Homo sapiens: one gene and its partner. The protein of the gene in region 2 interacts with the protein of the main gene of each other region in a pairwise test. Each region holds a gene or a part of one and is shown on either strand. Other genes may lie near its edges.

Evidence for each region.
Region 1: the proteins of PITPNM1 (region 2) and TFCP2 interact in binary tests that used the Homo sapiens proteins (3 or more experiments, as listed by UniProt).

Annotation. Positions count from the first base shown.
Region 1 is NC_000012.12:51,114,086-51,117,892, forward strand, and holds part of TFCP2 (alpha-globin transcription factor CP2), read right to left. Parts: intron 3,663-3,807; coding exon 3,586-3,662; intron 2,336-3,585; coding exon 2,230-2,335; intron 1-2,229.
Region 2 is NC_000011.10:67,502,963-67,506,869, forward strand, and holds the start of PITPNM1 (membrane-associated phosphatidylinositol transfer protein 1), read right to left. Parts: upstream 2,402-3,907; 5' UTR 2,226-2,401; intron 2,214-2,225; exon of another isoform or gene 1,832-2,213; intron 1,635-1,831; exon of another isoform or gene 1,560-1,634; intron 1,260-1,559; 5' UTR 1,219-1,259; coding exon 1,141-1,218; intron 915-1,140; exon of another isoform or gene 775-914; intron 1-774. UniProt on the Homo sapiens protein: Catalyzes the transfer of phosphatidylinositol (PI) between membranes. Binds PI, phosphatidylcholine (PC) and phosphatidic acid (PA) with the binding affinity order of PI > PA > PC. Regulates RHOA activity, and plays a role in cytoskeleton remodeling.

The DNA of each region.
Region 1 (3,807 bases), on a different chromosome or scaffold from region 2:
TAAATTGGACCACCTCAATGTAAAACTTTAGTGCATCAAAGGATAGTATCAACACAGTAAAAAAGCAACCCACACAATAACAGAAAAGATTTGCATGTGATATATCTGCTATGGGGTTAATATCCAGAATATTTTAAAAATTCTTTCAACTCAATAACAAAAAAAACAAAACAATCCAATTCGATAGTGGGCAAAAGACTTGAACAGACATTTCTCCAAAGAAAATATATAAATGATGGGCCGGGAGCCTTGGCTCACACCTGTAATCCCAGCGCTTTGGGAGGCCAAGGCGGGTGGATCACCTGAGGTCAGGAGTTCAAGACCAGCCTGGCCAACATGGCAAAACCCTGTCTCTACTAAAACACAAAAATTAGCTGGGTGTGGTGGCGGGCACCTGTAATCCCAGCTACTCAGGAGGCTGAGGCAGGAAAATCGCTTGAACCCGGGAGGTGGAAGTTGTAGTAAGCCAAGATCATGCCACTGCACTCCAGCCTGGGCGACAGAGGGAGACTCCATCTCAAAAATAAATAAATAAATAAATAAAAATAAAGAAAGAAAGAAAATATATAAATGGCCAATAAGCACATGCAAAGATGCTTGACATCACTTATCACCAGGGAAATGCAAATCAAAACCACAATGAGATACTACTTCACAACCATCAGGATGGATATTATCAAAAAATAGAAAGCAACAGGCCAGGTGTGGTGGCTCACGCTTGTAATCCCAGCACTTTGGGAGGCCGAGGCGGGCAGATCAAGAGGTCAAGAGATTGAGACTACCCTGGCCAACATGGTGAAACCCCGTCTCTACCAAAAATACAAAAATTAGCTAGGTGTGGTGGTGCATGCCTGTAATCCCAGCTACTTGGAGGCTGAGGCAGGAGAATCACTTGAACCTGGGAGGGAGAGGTTGTGGTGAGTTGATATCGCGCCATTGCACTCCAGCCTGGGCAACAAGAGCGAAACTCCATCTCAGGAAAAAAAAAAAAAGGAAAGCAACAAGTGTTGACAAGGATTGGAGAAATTGGAACCTTTTTTTTTTTTTTTTTTTTGAGAGAGTCTCGCTCTGTCACCCAGGCTGGAGTGCAGTGGCGTGGTCTTGGCTCACTGCAAGCTCCGCCTCCCGGGTTCACACCATTCTCCTGCCTCAGCCTCCTGGGTAGCTGGGACTACAGGCGCCCGCCACCACGCCCAGCTAATTTCTTTGTATTTTGAGTGGAGACGGGGTTTCACCATGTTAGCCAGGATGGTCTCGATTTCCTGACCTCATGTTCTGCCCACCTTGGCCTCCCAAAGTTTTGGGATTACAGGCGTGAGCCATCGCGCCCGGCCGAAATTGGAACCTTTGAGTACCGCTGGTAGAAATGTAAAATGTGTAGTCACTGTGGAAAACAATATAGTGGTTTCTAAAAAAAATCTAAGATAGAGTTACCATATGACCCAGCAATTCCATTTCTGGATATGTATCCAAAAGAATTAAAAGCAGAGACTCAAACACATATTTGTACATCCATGTTCATAGCAGCATTATTCACAATAGCCAGGAAATGGAATCAAATTAAGTGCCTATCATGGGATGAATGGATAAACAAAGTGTGATATATACACACAATGGAGTATTATTCAGCCTTGCATGGGAAGGAAATGCTAATGTATGCTATACCATGAACCTTGAAAACATTATGCTAAGTGAAAAATGCCAGTCACAAAAGGACAAATACTGTATGATTTCATTTATGCAGTACTTAGTAGTCCAATTCATAGAGACAGAAAGGAGAATAGTGGTTACCAGGGGCTGTGAAGAAGGGAGAATGGGGAGTTGTTGTTTAACAGGTACAGACTTCTGGTTTTGCAGATGAGAAAAGTTCTGGAGATGGATGATAGTGATGGTTACACAATAATGTGAATGTACCTAATGTTACTGAACTATCCACTTAAAAATGGTTAAAATGATAACTTTTATGTAATGTATATTTTACCACAACTTAAAAAACAACAAAATCAACCTATAGTTGCTATGGAACTAAAGTGTTTACACTTCCAACTTCAATTTTGATATCATTTTAACTTGTATTACTTAAAATTTTTTATGCTTAGTAAATAATTTCAAGGTTTATACTAATTGAGCCTCTCAAGCATATGAATCAAGGTAAATGTCAAATAAAGAAAACCAACTCTGGGTCCATAGCTAAAGGCATTTCCTAGGCAATAGATTCTCTTAACTCACCTATGTCAAGAATTCTGTCTCCAGGTCGGTTCCACCTCCAGCCCTCTAGCTGCTGATGCTCAGTGTACTGAAGCCTTCTGTCATGGAACACCACACGGAATATACTCTAAAAGGATACAACAAAATCAGATGATAACAAGACCTCTTGAAAATCAGTGCTGACAAAGAAAAACTAGCAGGATTCACTGCCAGTTTGTTTCTAAACGCAATCTAAAATTATTTTTCTTAAGATCTGTTTCACTCTAAAACCCATACCATACTAAGTGCTATTTCAGGATAAAATTTTATAATTTCTCAGATATAATCTTTTTTTTTTTTTTTGAAACAGATTTTGCTCTTGTTGCCCAGGTTGGAGTGCAATGGTGTGATCTCGGCTCACCGCAACCTCCACCTCCCGGGTTCAAGGAATTCTCCTGCCTCAGCCTCCTGAGTAGCTGGGATTACAGGCATGTGCTACCACGCCTGACTAATTTTGTATTTTTTGTAGAGACAGGGTTTCTCCATGTTGGTCAGGCTGGTCTCAAACTCCCAACCTCAGGCGACCCGCCCGCCTCAGCCTCTCAAAGTGCTGGGACTATAGGCGTGAGCCACCGGGTCCAGCCAATTTCTCAGATAGAATCTTTATAGTTAACTGGTACCATATTTAAAACTTGGCTTAAACTTCAGTCCGATGGTAACTAGGAATAAAGTACTCCTGTCTGAAGCGTTTCTGCACACCTCTTCTGTTATACCACGGCCTATCTGGCTTAGCTCTTCAGATGTATATGAAAAACTCACCAACTCCCCCGCTTGCTAACCCACCATACAACCTGTAAACACTGAGGGTAGGTAGAGCCTGTTTCCATCAACTTTCCTTTTGTTACTCTTACTTTGTAGAAGTGCCTATTAATTCCTCCCACCACCTTTTGACAAAACTCCTCTGTTTCAACTGTGCTGTGAATTATCAAAATCCTAACTGTTAATCTAGACTAAGAGAACTGCTCTTCATCAAAGTAGCTTCTGTTTTCCTTGCTATAAGACTAAGTATCAAAAAAGACACTGAGGCTTCTCTAAAGATCTCAAGGAGGTTACTTTACTCCACCCAAAAGAACTTCACTGAGCCAGGGGTGATTACCCTGGACAGGGAGTGGTAAGCGTTCTATTTCTGCAGCTCTGAAAAATTCATGTGAATACTGGGGCTTACTCTGACCCCAAAGAAATAACACATCAGCTTACTACTCTGCCAACAAATTACTGCAGGCAAGAGATACCATTAAGCCATTGGAAGCAAAAGAACATTAACAACAACAACAAAATTTAAAATCCCAAAAGGATTAGTAAAAAATATTGTACAGAAGAATGATTTATTCGTTTTACCTTCACCAATTTGCCATTAATTTCTGGAAGTTCTCCAAGTTTCCTATTGTCTAGCATTCGAATTTCATAAGACTGTCCTAGAAGAAAAAGTAATTACATATTATATTCACCACAAATTAACTTTGCTAGATTCGGAAAGAATAAAATTCAGTTGGTTGAATATACAACAGTATAATAATATTATTAGTATTAGTAACAACAATCAGAAGCCTTTACAAGATG
Region 2 (3,907 bases):
CTCCAGGCAGTGTTTGGGATTATATCAATTGAGATATATTGATGAATAGAACAAAGATCCCTGCCCTCGTGGAACTTACATTCTAGTGGAAGGAGACAGACAAAAGGAAAAAGCAAATTATGTGGTGTGTTAGAAGGCGCTAGGTGCTATAGGAAAAGAAAGCCTAGAGTAGGGTATAGGTGATGAGGGTTGGGGGCTGCAGTTTTGATCTGATAGTCAGGGAAGGCCTTGCTAATAACACAATGTGACCATGGCTTGAACATGACTTTAAGGAGGTGAGGTAGGAGGAGGTGCTCAAGGCCGGGGGAAGCCAGTGCAGCCCCAAGGTGGGAGCATACTGGATGTGCTGGCAGGTGGCAAGGAGGCCGGGGTGGCTGGCAAGGAAGAAGGGACTAGGAGAGGAAAAGGGGCCTCCAGCTCTCAGAGGCCCTGACCCTGGCCCCCTCCCTCTCTGGGAGGCCCTGGCCGCCTCCCAATCCCAGCTCCGCCACACCCCTCAGAGCTTGAGAGCCCCCAGATCCTGCCTTCTATTGCTCCGGGGCTCAGATGGCCCTTTCAAGCCCGAGGCGGGGTCCGGGCCCTCTTGCTTTATGAGATTCTGGTCCTGCTGTGCTGGGGACAGATCTGGAGCAGACTCCCCCAGGCCCCGCACCAACCCGGCCACTGCTGAGGGCCTGCCCTGGCCCACTCTTCTCACTGCCCTACACCAGAGCCTCCTCGCCCTCCCATCCTTGCTGCCCTGTCCCTGCTCCAGGTTTGACACCTGGTCCTCACCACATCTCCCTGACCTCCAGGGATGGCCAGGACCCTCCACTTCTCCAGACCCCCTCCCGCCTTCCTCTGCCGCGGAGGCCCCCCTCCTCATTCTTGCCGCCTCCTGGGCGCTTTTTCCTTCCCCGATGGGATTACAGATCCTGAGGAGGATTACAGGAGATCAGAGGAGGGCTGGGCACTTAGCGGATGGGAAGCACCACTCGGCCCTCCTGCCCCTCTTCCCACAGTCCTTCCCCATTCCCACATCTGAAGGGGGGCCTCTCTTGCCTCCTCCGGGCTCCCAGCCGGTCCCAGCCCCGGGGCAGGGCTGGCGGGGTCGGCAGGGCTCCACCCCTTGCCCGGGTGCCCTCTCCCCGCCGCCCTCACCTGGATCATGTAGAGCTGGGCCACCTGGTACTCGTCCAGGCTCATGGGCAGCAGAATGTGGTATTCCTTGATGAGCATCCTGAAGGCGCTCGGCGGGCCGCGCGCGGCCTCCGCTCCTCCTGGCGCAGGGCACGGCGCGACAGTCAGTGCGGGGAGGCTGCGCGCGGCCCCGAGCCCTGCGCGCCGGCCGAGGGACTCAGGCCACGGGACCCCATGTCCGGGCCCGCCACGAGGGAGGCAGAGGCGAGCCTAGCACCGCCGCCCGCGCCGCCGGGGCCGGGAGCCGCAGCGAGGCTGAGCGCTGACCTCTTTTCCGCGCAGCCCCCGCCCCCCGCCCGCCCGTCGCCATGGCAACCGCGCGCTGACGCGGGCCCCCCGGAGCGCCAGGCTCCGGCCGGCGGGCGGGAGGGCCACCTCACCTCTCCCGCTGCGACCGCGTCCTAACCCCGGGAAACGGCATCCCTCTGGGCGCGCCCCCGAAGCCCCGGGGCCCCTCCTTCCGGGCCCGCCTTCCGCGACCGGCCCCTCGGGGACCCGCCCCTTGCATCCCCTTCCCGGAGTCGGCGGGGTCCCAAGTCCCCCACTCTCGGACGTCCACCTAGAGCTTTGTTCCCCGAGTGTCTCTGCGCGGAGTGGCCCAGTGCGCCCAGCATCTCTGCCAGGGTTCCCCACGCCCTGCACCCGAACCTACCTTCCGGGACCGGTAATCTCCTCCGCCCTCCAGATCTGCCTTCTTGGGCAGCCGGGTCCTCGACCTCCCCCTCCCAGCATCCTTCCTGGACCCCTGGCCCTCGCCGGCTCTCCACGCGCCTAGGCAGCCACTCCGTCCTCTTCCCAGGGGGTGAGCCCTCCTCAGGCTGAGGCCAGAGTGGCTCCACTTGGTATCCCACGGGCCATGGCCCTGGAGACCCGCTCCGTCCACCTGCGCCCCAGACTGGCACCGAGGTTCCGCTGCAGGCACCCCTCCATCCCCCACTCGCACCCCGCGAGCAAGCGAGAGGCCCCGTTGTCCCCACTTCCCTCTGCTCGCCGGCGTCCCGGTCCCCTGCCGCGCTCTTGGCCCGCCTGCCGACGCCCCGGCTCACCTCTAGCTTGAGGCGGGCGCCCCTCACCCAGCCCGGGCAGGGCCGGCCGGCCCGTGGGTCGGAGCCCGGAGCGCCCCCAGCCCCGGCCTCGGGTTCCAGCGGTGGCCGGACCCTCCCGAGGCGCAGTGCCGGCCCATGGCCCCGACCTTCCTCTCGATCCGCCCGCCGGCGCCCCTGCAGTCCCTCCCCGACGCCCGCCGCGTCACTGCGGCCGCCCCGCCCCCTTCCTGGGCCCGGCTGGCCCTCCCCACCCCGGCGGGGTCCGGGCAGCCCCGCCTGCAGCGGAGGAGGCAGGGAGGGAGGCCCCTGCCTTCCTTCCCCCGGGCAGTGGGAAAAAGGCCATTGCCTAAATTCTGGCTCTTCCTAGTCCCTCTGTGCTGATTGGGGTCCCCAAAGACTCTTAGTTCCTATCTCCACCCTAGCCCAGCCCTCCTGTGTGCAGTCACAGGGTGGTTTGATATGGGGGGTCCCAGGCCCACTCTCCTCTTCTCACTCTCTGCAGTCCTTAGATTTGGGACCCAGGGTTGAGGAAATGCCTCCCCACCAGTCTAGCCAGAAGCTGGTGGCTCTGACATGCCTCCACCTAGGGCTGGGCTCGGCTCCAGGGCCCCAGGCCTCTATGGTCACCCAGCTACACGCCCAGGCAGAAACGGGCTGTCACTGTGAGTGGCTGGGCTAGCCCCTGCATGGTGCCACAAAGCCTCCCCCACCTCTGCCTTCCGGGTCCACAAGTCCGGTCACCCAGCCACCCGGAGTCTGGGCAAAGGCCTCACGAGGCACCCCAAGGCTGGGTTCATGGGATCCCACCCAGCCTGCTACAAGGTGCTGGGGCAGTGACGGCAGCACCCCGCCAGCCCCTCCCCTTGACACTGAGGCCAAGTGCTGGAAGCAGCAGTGCCCTTTCTCTCTGAGAAGTCAGAGACCTTCAGGGCTGATTCAGAGGCTGGGGTGTTGTCAGGGCATTAGGGCGTGTGAGGGAGTGGCTTACGTGAACTGGCATTTCCATGCTGCCAGGCATCACCGCCAATCCAGAGGAAGCGCCCTCCAGGCCCAGGCTGCCCACAGCGCCAAGGGCTGTGGAAGCAGCCAGGCCCTGTGCTGCCCCCTGGTGGCACCACAGGAAGGCCCAGGGCTCTCAGCGCCACGGCTGGGGCGGAGAGGGCCCAGGTCCCACCAAAGGCTGATGGCCTACAGAGGCAAGTCAAACCTCATTTAATCACACCCTCCCCATCCATAGTCTCCTCTTCCCCTGTCTCTGCCTGGCCCACCCAGGCTTAGCTGAAGAACCAGACCCAGAAAGGCTCAGAGCTGAGAGCACAACTCCAAATCATCTTTTATTAATATAAAAAGGGCATATTTAGCAAAAGACACACAGATAAAAGAGTCACTATGGCTCAGGACACAAGGCAGGGAGGTGCCAGGCCTGTGCCCCTGCTGGGGGAGAAGGAGGCTCGGGACAAAGTGGGAGAAGTGCTGGGAAGGGCTGAGCGGTAGGGGCCACAAAAGTTCCGGTGGGCAACACTGTCGGCAGGTCATGGGTGGGACTCATGGGGACCTCGCTGCTAACTCTTGTTGTGGGGGGGTGTCCTTAGTGCTGCCACCTGGAGGGCCACTCCTTGGTTCCTGGAGGGGACCCACCAAGGGACACAGGACAGGAAGCCCAGGATGGTTAGTGCAACTCG